2 separate regions of the Homo sapiens genome follow, and region 1 is linked to region 2. The links come from fine-mapping of genetic effects on gene expression. A gene starts in region 2. The other region holds a variant in brackets. All regions are shown on one strand. Distances are from middle to middle.

What was found. PIP is the estimated chance that this variant, and not a neighbour inherited with it, causes the effect.
Region 1: its variant is fine-mapped to the expression of IGSF9B in transverse colon (GTEx, PIP 0.93).

What each region holds. Positions count from the first base shown.
Region 1 is chr11:133,920,344-133,928,660 of GRCh38, reverse strand. It overlaps IGSF9B (immunoglobulin superfamily member 9B), which reads left to right. Exons shown (of 20, transcript NM_001277285.4): 13 at 1,570-1,745; 14 at 2,696-2,922; 15 at 3,757-3,841; 16 at 5,931-6,092; 17 at 6,439-6,484; 18 at 7,264-8,317. Among named protein-coding and RNA genes, the nearest start is that of MIR4697, 26 kb to the right of the region's middle. RefSeq lists a silencer at 968-1,057. The variant C/T (reference allele first, on the strand shown) is at 3,539.
Region 2 is chr11:133,952,732-133,961,048 of GRCh38, reverse strand. It overlaps IGSF9B (immunoglobulin superfamily member 9B), which reads left to right and starts at 4,081. Exons shown (of 20, transcript NM_001277285.4): 1 at 4,081-4,358. The coding sequence starts at 4,295. RefSeq lists a silencer at 3,903-4,252.

The sequences.
Region 1 (8,317 bases), 32 kb after region 2:
CCACCTGCCCTGCCCCGGGGGTGACAACCTTGAGCTGGGAGGGCGAGCCCCTCAGTGCCTTCTTTTAGACCTGTCTCACCTGCAGGTGTCTCTCTAGCCAGGCTCAACTCGAGGAGGGGGAGCTCGAGGGGAGGGGGAAAAGGCAGGCACCTGGGGCAGCTCAGGGGGTTCAGGGAGACCCCTTTATCCACTTCTCAGCAGCGAGGGAAGTTGAGAGGGGCACCCGCTCTGTCTCCCATCATGGTGGTTCGGTGGCTGCTTCCCGGGCGGAGTGTCCTGGGTGTCTTGATTCTGATTGGAGAACTGCACCTGGATGATGGGAGTTGCCGCAGCTCACCTCCCGTCCCCTTACTCTGTTCCTCCCGCAGCAGCGTGGGGGCCCTAACCAGCCTGCCCGGTGGCTGCTGGGAGACCGGTGCTGCTCAGCGCCTAGGTGTCCAGGGTGGGACATTTGGTGTGGTCAAGCTGTCTTTGGAGATGCCTGGGTGGGAGGTCTGGGCATACGATGGGGGGCTCAGGTGTAGATTGGGGCTCCCCTGCTGCTTGCGGTGCTGCTTCACGCTGCTGCTCCACGCTGCTGCTCATCTGCACTGCTTTTCCACACGTGGCTCCTCGCTGCTTTGTTGCCTGGGCCAGGGAAGGGCGGGGCCGAGGTTGGGGAGGTCTCCTTTCTTTCTGCCTGCCTCTAACTCTGTGCACTGACTCCGACGTTTGGCGCCGGCTTCTTTTTGTACTGCTTTCCGCTGCCTCATCTCACCCTCCTGGGCGTGCACGGTAGTGAGCCGGGACCCGGGAGTGGATCCTGGAGGGCACCCACCAGGTTACAGCTCAGGGCTGCAAGGAGAGGGCCAGTCCCACAGGACCATGTCTCCTCCCTGTGGTGACGTGGCAGCACTGCACCCATAGCCCTCCGGCTTTGCTGGGAGTTGGGAGCCTGTGGAACAAGGGAACACCCTCGGCCCGTCTTCCTACTCTCCATGCATAGCGTGACCTTCTTCCAACCCTTACGGCCTTAGGGATCCTGGCCCCACTGTGGGGAAACCCCTGGTCATTATGGTCTTATACCCTGGACATCTCAGGTGACTCCAGTCTGATTGGATGAATGAGCCCTGTGGGTTACCCGAGGCCCTACTTCAGCTGTCCCTGGGGGTGTGTGCAGCCAGGTCCTGGGCTCCTTCCCTCATCCTGCCACTGTTGAGCCGCTTATCCCCATACCCCAGAGCCTTACTCTCCCAAGGCAGAGCTTGTTCTTAGGGTTGTGACCAGGGTGGGATTCTCCCACAATGCAGCTGGTAATCCATCTGACCAGTGTCCTGAGCACGACTTGCACCTAAAGGCCCCTTTGGTAGAAAAGATGCCAGCTGTGGTTGGTGACCCAGCATCAGGAGGATTGGCACAGCCAAAGCTGGGCAGGGCATCCACTCTGGGCCATGCCCTCTTCTTGCCCTTGAACCTAGGAACGCCAGGCCCACCAGTGCCTTCTCCCTGAGCACCCTGCATGCACCCTCTTCTCTCCAGTGTGACCCACCCCGCCCCTCGTCCCCTATCCTGTCTCTCTCTTTTGGCCAGGATGAAGCGGGCACAGTTTGGGCCCCATGACTGGCTGTCCTTGCCAGTGCCGCCAGGACCCAGCTGGCTGCTGGTGGACACCCTGGAGCCTGAGACAGCGTACCAGTTCAGCGTCCTGGCCCAGAACAAGCTGGGAACCAGCGCCTTCAGTGAGGTGGTCACTGTGAACACTTTAGGTGAGGGCCCGGGGTGGGATGTTGGGAGCGGGGGTTGTAGAGGTGGTGGGGGCGGTGGCCCAGGCAGCTATAGCAGTCGGCCTCCTGTGTGCCGGTACCTTGCTGAGTGCTCCACAGAGCCGTGCCATCTGATCTCCCCGTGAGGATTTGTTGTGGTCTCTGTGGGGTTTGCTGGTCCTGCATCAGAGTGCCATTGGCCGAATTCCTGTTGCTTTTTCAGGTGGAAGAAAGACACTTAGAATTTTCTCTTTCCTTGTCAGGCCACATGTTTGCTTTCAGGGGAGATTGGGCATCCTCCCTCCTTGGCAGCGCCTGCCGGTTCTGGCCTCTGGCCCCAGCGTCACTGGGCGGTAGGCATGTGGCTGCCTCCCGCTGCAGAGTCTTCCAGGCCACCTTCCTGGAGGCAGCCTCATACTCCTCCCTGCCTGGCCACAGTTGTGTTTGCTCTGCTCTGGAGCCAGAGAAAGGGCCACTGTGAACAGGCTTTTCCTAGGTGGTGTAGGTGGCGCGACTCCAGCCCCTTTCCCAGAATCCGCTCCTGAGCGGCCGCCAAGGTGGACAGCAGTCTGGGATGCTCACCCCCAGTCCTTGGCACCTCTGTGGGGCCTTGTGTTGACCCCCAAACCCCGGCCAAGAAGGGAATGGAAAGAGTGACTGCTGTGCTGTGAGAAAGAAGATATCCCTAGCTCCCTGGAAGAGCACAGGAGATACTTTGATGACATTTAATTATTCCTCCTTCCCCATAGTTCCCATTTCTCTTCCCTTTTGCAGTACACGATTCCCTCATGTATGTTTAGACGTACTCTGAAGGCAGAACCCTGAAGCCCTGGGCCCCGGGCCCTGACTCTGCTTCCCTCTGGGCCCTGACATGTGCACAGGAGTGTGGGGGGTGCGGTGGCTGCCCTGGGCCTCGCTGATGCGCTGTGGTTCTTCTCCTTCCCCCGCCGCAGCATTCCCTATTACAACTCCAGAACCCCTGGTGCTGGTCACCCCACCGAGGTGCCTCATAGCCAATCGGACTCAGCAGGGTGTGCTCCTGTCCTGGCTTCCGCCTGCCAACCACAGCTTTCCCATCGACCGCTACATCATGGAGTTCCGTGTCGCAGAGCGCTGGGAGTTGCTCGACGATGGCATCCCCGGCACCGAAGGAGAGTTCTTTGCCAAGGATCTGTCACAGGTGAGGGCTTTGCTCTTCCTTGCTGCTGCTTCCCAAATCCGGGAAGCGACAAGACTCTAGAGGCACTGGAAGCTTTGAGTGACCAACTTTGGGTGTGTGAGGCCAGCCACATCCTGTACCTCCTCACCACTGGTCCTGGATTCTCCCAGACTCGCTACCAAGGCCTGGACTCCTCAGATCATGGCCCACAGGCTCGGGGCCAGCTCTGGGGCAGCGGGGACCTGTGTTCTACTGAGGGTCCCGGCACCGCTACAAGCTGGGCAGGGCAGGCTGAGAGGCCAGCAGGCGTAATCAGAGCACTGACCCCAGCCCTTGCTGAGCCTAACCTGGGGTGGGCAGAGAAGTTCCAAGAAGAATTCTCTTCTAGGTGTGTCCAGGGAAGAACCCCTTCTCCAGTAATTTAGAGCTCCTGGAAGAAAGTGCATTATCTCTTTTTCCAGTAGCTCCGTTAAACTTGGATATCTAGCTGGGGAGAGGAAGCAGCTGGTTTCCTAAGATACAGTCTCATCTATCTTTCTGTCTTCCTTCCTGGACACTTATTTATCAATAGTGGTTGCTGGAGTCGGCTCCCAGTGGCCCTGGAGAGCCTGTTGTACATATCTCTTCCCAACGCTTT[C/T]GGTGACCTCACGTTCGTAGCTTGAAGTCAGCCATTGTAAGAGTGTTTACACCACAGCAATTGGCCAGTGCTACCATCGCTTAGCATTAGACACTTAGCAGTCCTCCTGTGCTTTGGGTGCCCTGCCCTTTGCAAGGCTGTGTGCAGGATGAGTGTGTGAGGGGACAGTGGTCATCTCAGGTCCCTCGGCTGACTGGGTATTGTCCCTGGGGCTGCAGGACACGTGGTATGAGTTCCGGGTTCTGGCCGTCATGCAGGATCTGATCAGCGAGCCCAGCAACATCGCCGGCGTCTCCAGCACAGGTATTTTGGGTTGAGGGTGCTCTTGCAACTATAGGGACATAAGCCCCAGAGCTGCATGGGGGTCATTTTGTGAAATGGCTACTCCACGAGGAGAAGCTGGATTGGAAACTAAGGCAGTGCCTGGTTGCAGCTGCGTGAGTCATAGCCTTTCTTAAGCCCACCAGACCCATATTTCCATGATGCATGCTATTTCGTGAAGCTCAGAAGCTGAGTTTCTGACACTTGTATAAGACAGCCACAGAAAGAAATTCAACTAATCTTCTCATTATAGTAGTCAAAAAGGACTTGATTGAAGTGCTATTTGCTGTACATTTTCAGTTTCCTCTTGTCGGGGAGGGGCTGTGAATCGGAGGAAACAACAGGTCAACCATGTTTATCAAATGCTTGTGATAGACTTCTTTATAATTATGTGGGTTTTATTTGGAAAATTGTTGTTTGGTGTTTTCCTCCCTTCCTTCCTCTCTCTAGATTTTTAAGGCTAAATAAAGCCAATTCCCTAGCATTTTCTCCATTTATCTTTCTTTCTCTTGGCCCTGGTCCCATTTCTACACATCTTCTCTCCAGCTATAGTTCCTGAGACATAGCAGGTTCCTCCGCCAGTGAAGGGGTGTCCTTGGTATGGGAAAAGGCTCTTGCTTATAAGCAAGTGATGGCATCATTTCCTTGGGCACCGCTCACCCAGAGTCCCCTGGGACCAGGTGACAGTGACCTCGTCTGAGGAGCTCATGCAGCAGGACTTGTAGAGTTGGGGAAGTGCTGGTGTGGGCACACTGCAGGGAGCACGAGAGCAGGGGCAGGTGTGGAGTGCAATTTCTGCTTTATACATTAGGCATCAATGGGCTTTAAAAAAAAAAGGTTGTGTCCTACAGGTAGCAGAACCCACAGTCTTTCTTGACTTCTCTGTGGGGAATAGACTCAGAGTTGGAGGAACAGGGATGAGAGCTTGCATCCAAGGCTGGAGCTGAAGAAGGGGTGTTGTGTGGGCCCACCCCTGACCATTCTGTGCTCAGTAGCTCTATGCCAGCTCCTGGCAGGAAATGTGCCTCGTCAGACACTTCCACACAGGGGAAGGAGGAGGCAGCAGCCTCAGCATTCCCTGTATTAGGTCCCCCATTTCCAAAGGCTGTAGCTTTCATTTTCCCCTCAGACAATCAGCATCATCTGGATTATTTTTATCCATTATTATTATCGATGCAGCAATGAATTCTGGCCAAATACGTTACAATCTATCGATTCTGCCTTTGCTGAACCTAAGCAGTGGCACTTACCGACACAACTTTCCTATGAGTATAAGATGGTAGGCTGGTGTCTAGTCTTGGCTCGGTCATAACGAGCTCTGTAGACTTGGGCAGGAAAGGAGGACGTTCAGCTCCTTATGGTGAAACGAGAGATTTGGCTCCATCTCTGCTGTCCCTGCCAGCTCTAGGGTACTTCCGTACCTGAGATGACCAGGATGCGAATCTTCAGGACGTTGCATGCCTGTACTAGAAGGGGAGAGGATCTGAATTTTGTAGTAATAATCCCTCTTCCTGCAGTCGTATTTTATCCTCAAGTTGCCTTCACACCTGGGCTCTCCTTTTGTAGAGACACTGGTGTGAGGCAGGAAATCCCAGACTGGGAGCAGGCAGCTGCGTTCTGGTTTGGGCACTGATGGCAATATCCACGTAAGCGGGTCTCTCTAACCCAGTGGATCAGAGCTCTTTCATTTAGAGAATGAGAACAGTATGTGTGCTCTGTGTAGCTCATGGGGTTAACATGAGAAGAGCTGATAACGTGCATGAAGGTGCTTTGCAGAAGGCAAAACCCTAGATAAGTATAGATTACTCTTGAAGTCATTATCCCCATGGGGACAGGCATAGATGTTTTCTTCTTTACACCCTTTGGAGAGATTGACTTCTGTAGACTCTCCTCTCTTCTTCCTCTTCGTGACGCCATCCAAACCTCTTCAGTGCTAGAGTTCAGCTTGGAGCCCGAGCCTTGACACTGTCTGTTCTACAAAGGCAGGGTGAAACACTTGGGGACTGAAGGTCGGAGCAGGTGAGGTCCCGGGGAAGGATGGGCTCATGAGTGCTCCCCACCCTCCCTGCAGACATCTTCCCGCAGCCGGACCTGACCGAGGATGGGCTGGCGCGGCCTGTGCTGGCGGGAATCGTAGCTACCATCTGCTTCTTGGCAGCTGCCATCCTGTTCAGCACCCTGGCTGCCTGCTTTGTCAACAAGCAGCGCAAGCGTAAGCTCAAGCGCAAAAAAGGTGGGTGTCTGTCCCCTTCCCTTGCTCTCCCTGGCCCGGTTTCAAATGCCCCCCATCAAGAGAGGTGGACCATTTTTAGCATGGCCCCCCTTGGAAATAGGGACATTGAGATCTTGTGGGTAGAGCTGCCAGTGAGACTTGATTTGAAAGTGGGGGTAAGAAGCAGGGGTGGTGGGGAGAGGCTGCTGGGGCCCAAGCTAGCATGAAGGCAGGGGCCAAAGATGCCCACTGTGAGCAGCTCCTTCCCTGTGCGGTGGTGCTCCGGCTCTGTCAGCCTCTGCAGATGCGCGTGCTGCGTGGTTGCTGGCTTGGCCTCAGCAGCCTCTCCCCTTCTCTTTCCTTCCAGACCCTCCACTCTCCATCACCCACTGCAGGAAGAGCCTGGAGTCTCCGTAAGTGTCTCAGATCCTGGGAGAATTGTGCTGTTCATGGCAGGGGGCGCATAGGTAGACCGCTCGCCTTACCCAGCCCCATGTTAGTGTTTCTAAGCCATTTCTTCTTGATTGACCTGTGTGTTAATTGTACTTGCCCAGCCCCATCTCAGTGTTTCTAAGCCATTTCTTCTTGATTGACCTGTGTGTTAATTGTAAGTTGTCCACGCTGGTAGAGGGAGTGGCAGTGCAGATGATCCAAATTAGCCAGTAATCAGTTTCTCTTCAGCCTTGGAATGTATTTCTTTAGTGTTTTCCCACCCTAGCAGATTTGCCTCCTTAATATGTGTTGCTTAAGTTGATATTAAAGTGAGCTTGCTTGTCTTGAAAAGAGGGGAATGAAGCTGGAGGTGTGCTTAGAGCACAGCAGAGAGGGGGCAGGCCAGCACAAAAGTGAAGAGGCGGGTGTTCACTGGAAAGACGGATGATGGGGGGGGCCGGGCGCGGCGGCTCACACCTGTAATCCTGGCACTTTGGGAGGCTGAGGCAGGAGGATTGCTTGAGGCCAGGAGTTCAAGACCAGTCTGGGCAACATAGCAAGACCCCGTCTTTAAAAAAAAAAGGAGGATTCACGTCCAGACGGTGGAGAGTTGGCCAAAGCATTTCACACCACGATACACAGCCAGTTTTCTTGAGCGTGAGGATCCTGGGTGCTGGGTGGTTGCCGAGAGAGGGAAAGGAAGTCCTGGCCAGCACACTGCCCCACCTCATCCCCTCCCGGCTCTTGCTCCTCCTTGCAGCTTGTCCTCTGGCAAGGTGAGCCCCGAGAGCATCCGCACGCTCCGAGCGCCGTCAGAATCCTCCGACGACCAGGGCCAGCCCGCGGCCAAGAGGATGCTGAGCCCCACCCGTGAGAAGGAGCTGTCGCTGTACAAGAAGACCAAGCGGGCCATCAGCAGCAAGAAGTACAGCGTGGCCAAGGCAGAGGCCGAGGCAGAGGCCACCACGCCCATCGAGCTCATCAGCAGAGGCCCTGACGGCCGCTTCGTGATGGACCCTGCCGAGATGGAGCCCTCGCTGAAGAGCAGGCGCATCGAGGGCTTCCCCTTCGCCGAGGAGACGGACATGTACCCCGAGTTCCGCCAGTCGGACGAGGAGAACGAGGACCCACTGGTGCCCACATCTGTGGCCGCCCTGAAGTCCCAGCTCACCCCTCTGTCATCCAGCCAGGAGTCCTACCTGCCACCACCAGCATACAGCCCTCGGTTCCAGCCCCGCGGGCTGGAGGGCCCCGGTGGCCTGGAAGGTCGGCTTCAGGCCACAGGCCAGGCCCGGCCCCCTGCCCCCCGGCCCTTCCACCATGGCCAGTATTATGGGTACCTCAGCAGCAGCAGCCCTGGGGAGGTGGAGCCGCCCCCGTTCTACGTGCCAGAAGTGGGCAGCCCCCTGAGCTCCGTCATGTCGTCCCCGCCCCTGCCCACCGAGGGGCCCTTTGGCCACCCCACCATCCCCGAGGAGAATGGAGAGAATGCATCCAACAGCACGCTGCCCTTGACTCAGACACCTACAGGAGGGCGCTCCCCTGAGCCCTGGGGCCGGCCAGAATTCCCCTTCGGGGGGCTGGAGACCCCAGCGATGATGTTCCCCCACCAGCTGCCACCCTGTGATGTGCCCGAGAGTCTGCAGCCCAAGGCCGGCCTCCCCCGAGGACTGCCCCCCACCTCCCTGCAGGTGCCCGCGGCCTACCCGGGCATCCTGTCTCTGGAGGCACCGAAGGGTTGGGCAGGCAAGTCGCCCGGCAGGGGCCCTGTCCCAGCGCCCCCCGCCGCCAAGTGGCAGGACAGACCTATGCAA
Region 2 (8,317 bases):
TCTAGCAGTCATTTTTTTCCTTCAATTTTGAAGACTGTTTTCATTGCAAATTGTATCATCCAGAAATGGCTGCAACACTCTCTCCCATCCCGTAAGTTCTTCTTAAAATGTGACAGGGGCCGGGTGCGGTGGCTCACGCCTGTAATCCTAGCACTTTGGGAGGCCAAGGTGGGTGGATCACCAGGTCAGGAGTTCGAGACCAGCCTAGCCAATATGGTGAAACCCTGTCTCTACTAAAAATACAAAAATTAGCCGGATGTGGTGGCATGTGCCTGTAGGCCCAGCTACTTGGGAGGCTGAGGCAGAAGAATCACTTGAACCTGGGAGGCGGAGGTTGCAGTGAGCTGAGATTGCGCTACTGCACTCCAGCCTGGGTGACAGAGTAAGATTCCGTCTAAAAAAAAAAAAAAGTGACAGGGCCACTGTTCTATTGAGAGGTGGGGAACTGTGTCCTCTCCCTTTGAATTGGGGCAGGTTTTTGACCCTGATGGAAGTGATGCTAGGTGTCTTCCAAGGCTGGGATATGAAGGGTCATATGCCTTTCACCTGGTTCTACTGGGATGCCAGCTTTTGGAACCACCATGCTTTGAGGAAGCCCAGGCAGCCTGCAGAGAGGCCCACTTGAGGAAGAATCACAGCCCTTTGCTGGCAGCCCAGGCTAACAGCCAGCGTCAACCTGCTAGCCACGTGAGTAAGCCATCCTGAAAGGAGAAAGGTCCACACCCCAGTGGAGCTGATGCCACATGAAGTAGAGAAGAGCTGTCCTCACCAGCCAGTGTCCAAATTGCGGATTCAAGAGCAAATGAATGAGCCTTCTTGCTTTAAGCCATGATATTTTGGGCTGGGTTTTTACACGGTAAGACAACTGATACAGTTCCCTATTTATGTAAACACTAAACACGCTCTTTGGTGTTTGTGTTGAGTAAACTGCTTTTATTTAGAACTGCCTCTCCTTTTCACAAGCAGCTGTCCCAACAATTGTTCTACCCTAGATTCTGCAATGAGGGCTGGAACCACTGAGGAAGGTGAGAAGTGACAGACAAGTGAACTATTGTTTTTGAGTCCTCCTTGTTCGATGACTATGAGGAGGGAAGGAGGATAGTTTCCTCTTCTCCTACACTTGAAGCTCCTGTCAGCCCCCTTTCTCACATGTCCTCCAAAGGCCTCTGGGATGTGCAGGTAGGTGGCTACATTTGGTTTTTTTTCATAGACACACTGATAAGACTATTGTTTTGTATTTCCAAAAAGTCAGTACCTCTTAAAAGAAGATGACAGACACTCCCGTATCTGATATACATAGCATTCCTGGATATATTACTGCATTTATTAGTGACATCGATGACATTCAGGTACACCTAGGAGCTGCGCAGGGAAGTGGCTCATGTTCCTCCCTCATGTCCCTTTTGGACATCTGGGGTCCATGCTCCCCTTGAACACTCAACTGGATGTGTCTATTCTAGGAAGGGGCAACCATCCTTTCTGGGTCCAAAGCTCAGCCATACGCCAAGAGGAAAAGATTTGATCAGACTCACTCCTCACTGTAAGCTGATACAGTATATCTCTCTTTAGCTGATCTGAAACCCAGTTGAGACATGTCTAATGATGATGATGATGACGAACTTTTCCCTTTGTATCTTAATTTTCTTCCCCTTCCTCTCTGCCTTCATCCCTTGTTCCACTCTGTTTCCAGTAGAATTATCCAGAAGAAATTTGTTCTCCTCTTTAGATAGATCCTTCGAACCCCTTCCCAACCCAACTCATGTTCTAAAGCTTGTTACGTGTTTTTTTCTTTCCAATTTGACAGACACTTTTGTTGTTGTTTTTGTTTGTTTTTTAACAGGGTCTCATTCTGTCACCCAGGCTGGAGTGCAGTGGCATGATCACTGAGCCTAGAACTCCTGTGCTCAGGCAATACTCCTGCTTCAGCCTCCTGAGGAGCTGAGACTACTGGCATGAGCCTCCATGCCCGCCATCCATTCTGACAGACAGTTCTACTTTCCTAGCAGGAGGCAGAACCCTGAGTAGGACAAATGGATGGCCAGACAAAGCAATCAAGATGGGTGGTGAGAGTGGCTCCATCTTTTTCCTTGCCCTGCAGGCCCCTAGGAGAGGGTTTCTCTGAGACCTGATGTTTCCCACTCCATACCTAACAATGGTGAGGAACTAGGGCCAGGCTTTGTGGATCCGGCACTTTTCTCTAGGCCACAGTTAGCTGCTTAGAGGTTGTGGGAGGAGAAGGATCCTGTTATGACCAATTCTGCAAATGGATTCCAATATGTCTTTACAGTCCCGGGGCCCTGGGAAAGTGTGTAAGTGTGTGTGTATGTATATGTGTGTGTGTGTGTTGGGGGTGGAGTTATTCTGGGTCATGCCACCTGGAAATCACTGCATCAATGAGACCTGGAGATCACTGCATCAATGAGACCTGGAGCAGCTCACTTCATTGTCCCCAGAAAGGCATCTTTGCCCAAGAAGAGAACCAAAATCATGGCTCAGGGAGAGATGGCCCCAAGTTATGCATCTTGAGTGTGTTTGCACAGGTGGAGGGGTGGGTAGGGTAGAAGGTTATTCAACAGTCCTGGTTCTCTGGATCTATCCAGGCCCTCGACCTTTATCCATGTGCTCACTGACTGCTCTGTTGGGGGCCTCTTTCTGCCTCCCAGCTGGCGGTGAGCTAAGAGGCTTCCGGTGTCAGGGAATGCTCCACCTCCGGTGTTCAAGGCCACTTTTTGTGCATGTGTGTGTACCTGTGTGCACGCTTTCCCAGAAGCAAGTCTCCTTCTTGTTGTTTTGGGAGCTTCATGTCCTGGAGCCAGGGCTTTGTGGCTAACGAGTGCTTTGAGAGGATGAAATTCCTGAGCTCTCGCTCGCTGACCCTCTGCCTTCCTTCCTTGGCCAACAGCCCATCCCAGGGAGCGGTGTGATTCTTACCACTGCCTTCACTCCTTGAAAGAACAAACATCTTCACTGCAGCCTCTGAGCGCTGGTGTGAGGTGATTGTTTGTAGTAGATGTTTCCATGACACTCATTTATTTCTTCTGCAAATACAACTGTATTGGGGGAGGGGAAGCAGACAGGCTAGGGTAGGGAGACTGGAACATACGAAGACCTTCCAGTTTCCTATTTACATTCCTCTGTAGGATGAGAAGCTCCTTCCCTTTCCCTGGGTCTCCTCCATCCCAGACTCCTAAAGCTTCCCCCAAACCCATCTTGGTTTCATGCGGCCGAGTCGGGGCTGGGCTCCGAGTAAGGTGGAGAGGGGAGGAACCATGTGCGTGAGGAAGCAGCCTTTATCAGGAGAAGTGGGAAAAAGACCCAACTTTGACTGCTTGGAGTCGGGATTCAGTAATGATGAGCAGCAGTGACCAGCACTGGGGGTGGAGTGTGTGTGCACGAGTGTTCCTGAGGGGTCTGTGGCACTTCGCAGCTGAGCCAATGACTCACTCTAAATCTTAGCGACTTTGAGAGGTCATTTTAGTCATCCCCCGGTCTGCATCACGTTTGGAGGGGGTGGTGCGCTGCTCTGGGGACGTGTCTGGGTGCGGAGGGAGACGGGGTGGGGAGGCGGCGCGTGACCTCTTTGAAAAGATCTCCGGCGAAGGACGTTCCCCGGCTCTCCCGGGCCGCCGGCTCCTGGGTTTCCCCATCATAGAATCAGCATGGTCCTCTCGGGAACTGCTTTTTGCCGGATGGAAACCGGATGTTGGGTTCCATGAGTGGGCGGGGGCTCCACTTCCCTCAGACCTGTCCGGGGTAATTGAGACCCGCCAGGGTCCCGTTAGAAGCTACCATTTCCCTCACCAGAAACTTGCCACGCAGTGTGAGCCGAGAGAGAAGCGGGCAGAGACGCTATACCACCTTCTCCCCGGCAATGCGCATGATTCTGCGGCTCTGTGCTCGCCACACTTCAACGCACCTTGAAATGGGCTCGCCTCCTTCGCGCCGCGACGGGCGGAAGGCTGAGCCAATCGGACCCCCGGCTTGCGGGCGGCGCCCAATAGGCGGGCGGCGGGGGCGGTTCCGGAGGCCCGGCCCGGCTAGGCTTCACCGTGGACCTGGCTGCGCTCCGCCCGGGCGAGTAGTGCAGGTGCCGCTGCGCCGGGGCCGGGGAGGCGCGCGCCGAGCCGAGCGGAGCCTAGGAGGGATGGAGAGCTGGCCACCCGGGCTGCAGGAGCACCGGCGCGGGGCGTAGGCGGCGCGAGGCGGGCGCGAGGCGGGCGCTCGGGCGCGAGGCGCGTGCGGGCGCGGGAGCACTTTGCGATAGGATGAGGCTCCGGGCTGGCGCGGTAGTACTATGATTTGGTATGTGGCCACTTTCATAGCAAGTGTGATCGGCACCCGAGGGCTTGCGGCTGAAGGTGAGTTGAAGTGCGGCGTCCCTCCCCTGCCCCTCCCGGCGCCCTCGGCCCCTCGCGCCCGGCCCCTCGGTTTCCCGGCTCCTTGGCCCCCCGGTTCCCCAGCTCCCCGGCGCGCCTTCCCGCGGGTGAGGCTTGGGCTCCGACGCGGGCCAGGCGGCCCGGGAGCATTGCCGGGGAGGGCCTGGGGGCCGTGGGCTGGAGGGGCGGGCGGGAAGGGGCCAGAGCCCACGGGCTGCCGGGCACTCGGGGAAAGGACGCAGTGGAACCTGGGTCGACTTCGCCCACCACGGGCCCCACGGTGCACACCGGCGCGCCTAGCCCGTCGCCTCCTGCCCGGCGGCCGCCTCCCAGAGCTGCGGGAAACTCTGGCTGCGGGAGTTTGCGGTCTCCGGGCAGGCTGCAGCACGCTAGAGCCCCGCGCCGCGAGGAGCGCCTGCAGGGAGGCGCGACCCGGAGGATCCCTGGGACTGGCGGCACCCGCGTCTAAGGCCCCGGGTTCGCGCGGCCCTGCGGGCGTCCATCGCTCCGCTCGCGCCCCTCCTGCCCACACATCTTGGCAGCTGGAGGTCGGATCCCCCTAGCAGGGGCGCCCGGTGAGAGGAGGATTGATGAGGCCAGCTTCGAGGTGTGTCCGCTTTTGGCTGGACCCCGCCGGCCCCCGCGCCTCTCAGCCGCACCTGGGCCCCGGCCAGGCAAAAGTTCCCCGGGAGCGCGCCGCAGCCGCGCGGGCCCCACGCCGCCCTCCCCAGGCTGCGAGGCAGAGCTGGCTGGGGGCGGCGGCGGGGGAGGGGAGGGGCGGGGAAGGGGGGGTCCCCACGCTGTGAATCCGAGCGGAGGGGGGATTTTCTCTTTCCGCTTTCCTGGGTCTGAGCTGGGGGAGACGCAAGGGGGGAGCCACCGAGTTGGGTGATGCGTGCGTGAGCGCGCGGGCTTTTGCTTTGGAGATGGGCAGAGCGACCTACAAGCCTCTGGGTGGCACCCCCGGCTCTCGGCCCTTGTATGGAAGTGGGAGCGGAGCCTGGAGGGTGCCAGGACTGTGAGCTCAGGGCTGTCAGCGCGCAGACACGACCCGGCTGCGGGCAAGTTCACCAAGCCGGAGGAGATGGCGGCGGGAGAGAACCCGCTGTGGGTGGGAGTCAGCAGGCAGGACTCGCCGACAGAGAACCCTCTCCCAGCGGCATGGGGCGCCGGGTGGGCTGGAGGCGCCTCTCACGGGGTCCCCTCGTCACTCGTCTGTGCAGGGGGGCGTGCTTCAGGAAACTTTCCGGAATGGAATGAATATGTCGCCTCTGCTTCTGAGGGGGGTGGTGGTGTCTGAAAACAGAACGAGCAGAGGGCGAAGCGAAGGGTGATTTTGTTAACTGACATGTTGGTCCGGACGGTTTTAAAACTCTTCATTTGTCAGGTGGGAACACTGAGGCAAGGGTGATGGCGGAAGCTTACGGAACGGGGGGTGGATGTGAGGTGCATCGGGCTGCGCTTGACAGTCTGCCTGTAGCCTCATCCTCTCCCCCATTTCCTTGCCGTCTTCCAATGCCCGCATCCTCCTCCCCTCCCGTTTTTGGTATGTTCCTGCTATGGGACTGTCCCTGAAAGCACAAAAGGATGAGCTGGGATCTTTGAATAGAAAAGAGACGCTGAAGGAAGGCTCTGAAATAGCCTCCGAACCTAAGTCAGGGTGGGCAATGGACTTCTTTGCAAGTTTCAGCCCAGAATAAAGGAATGTGAGTTTATACTGCAGCAACACGCAGAATCGCAAGATAGAAGGAAGGGCTTCCCAAAATTGAAGGCTGCCTGGCATGAAGGTTATGCCCTCTTTCAGGGTGCAGAGGGGTCCTTCTGTCTGGAATGGCTGGACATGTACCCCTGTCTGGAAGCAGAGGGTGACCTTGCTGGTCTTGGGGTCTTTCTTAGCCTCAATTGCTCTGTGTGTGGTAGTTAAGGACCTAGGTCTAGAGCCATATGACTGGGATTCAGATTCTGGCTGTGTCACCTGCCGACCCTGTGACCTTGGACAAATTCTCAACCTCTCTAAATGTCACTTGCTTCAATAGAAAATGTGCCAATAGCATGTACTTTTAGGGTTTTTAGGTGGACATGAGTGTTATAAGGAAACAAAACAACTACCTGTTATATAGTACGTGCTCAGTAAACATTAACATTATTTTCTCAGTGTCCCTGGGATTCCAAGATCCTCCTCAATTTCTTTCCCTTGGGCCATTCAGGGCACTAGGAGCTGAGAATGTGTTGCGGGGAAGTTCAGAAGGCTGCCTGTGTCAGGAAGTAAGACCCCTTTCTGGGCTGACCTTGTCTGGGCAGAACCTCTTGTCCCTGGCATCCCAGGGACACGTGTGCAGGATGTGCGGGCCTCAAAGCTGCTCGGAAGTCCTTTGCAAGGTCTCCAAAGCTGGAGTGTTGTTGGTGGCCAGAGGTTTATGGAAGGACACAGCCCGGGAAGTGAGGGCTTGCAACACACAGCCTCTGGAGAGAGCGGGTGGGCGCCCGCTCGTGTGAGCAGCACCAGCCAGTGTCCACATGCTGCTGAGTCTCCCTGTGAGAGCTCAGCTGTTCCCTGACTGGCAGAGGTGACTTCTGGGGCAGTCCCTCAGCAGGAGGGACTTTGAGATGCCACCCTTAGGATTTGGCCATAGCAGGGGCTGCTCTGGCAGAGGGGGAAAGGGATGATGTTGTGTTGGGACCCGACTCCATCAGCCCTCGGGTGCGGGACAGAGGTTGGAATGGGCTCCTCCTTTTGACTTTGAGTGTGTGTGCCTGGGAGGTGATTAAGGTCAGTGGACAGGTTGGGGAAGTGTGGAGAAGAGAGGGGCTGGAGTGGTACCCAGAACCTGGAAGACAGTGATTGGTGTGCACTCAGTATCTCAGACGGCTGCTGAGCCAGCCCGGGGGAGTTCCTACTCTGTGGGAGGACCCTGGGCCGTGCTTAGCTGATTGTGGACCTTGGATAGGGGAGGAAAGTCCCAGACTTTACTCCCACGGCTGCCTCCTCTGTCTGCCACAGATTCTGTCGTTACATTATCCCTGACTACAGTGTCCCCAAATACAGTGAGGTTCTGACTCAGATCCTGCTGGTAGTTGGGCCATTGCCCTCTACTTTCTACCTGGCCTTGACCTATGCTTCCTTTTGGTAATGAAGATGGGAGGGTGGAGGTTTGGACTCAGAGGTTGCTATCAAGACCCCGTGGTGAGCCTATCGGCTGAGAAGGACTTCACTCAGGAAGTGGTCAGTGGCTGGATGGATGTGTGTGTGTATCCTCAGCACACACATGCTGGGGACAGGAGTGTGTCTGGCAGCCTGTGCCCTGTGGGAAGCTGGGGAGACGGGGATGTGAGAAGGGCTTGGCTGAGGGGCAGAGGGCAATCAGCTTTCAGCCGCGGGCCTGTGGCCCTGCATGTGCTGGTCCTGGAGTTGCAGGGTCCTAGATAGACCTTGAGTGGTTTCGTGTTTATGGCTCTGAGACAGAAGGCTGGAATCTGGTTACAGAGGAGCAGAGGCTGCCTCGCTGGAAGATTCTGAGCCCCAGCATCACTCTGGCCCTCACTCCAACCTCCTGTACCTTTGCCTTCTCCCCAGCCAGGGTGCTGGCTGTGTCTTCTTCCTTGGCCCTCTCTTCCTCAGCCCTGCTGGGTGCTTCAAGATGTGGGGGTGGGAGATAAGCTCCAAAGAGGGCTGGGCCTGAGATTTAAGGTAGCTCTCTTCTCCACATCCTGTGGCCTTCTCAGGTTGGGGTGCAGAGTACTTAGGGAGCGGTCCCCTTCCACCTGCTTCCTAGAAGAGGTGAAGCAGCTTGTGTGAAGAGTGGATCTGAATGGTCAAAGAGCTGCAACTGCTGAGAGCTTCCAGCTGTCCAGAAGTGTGTGTGTGTGCACATGCATACATGTGCACATGTGTGTGCGCATACACACATGTTCCTATATGTGTACATATGTGTGTGCCCCTG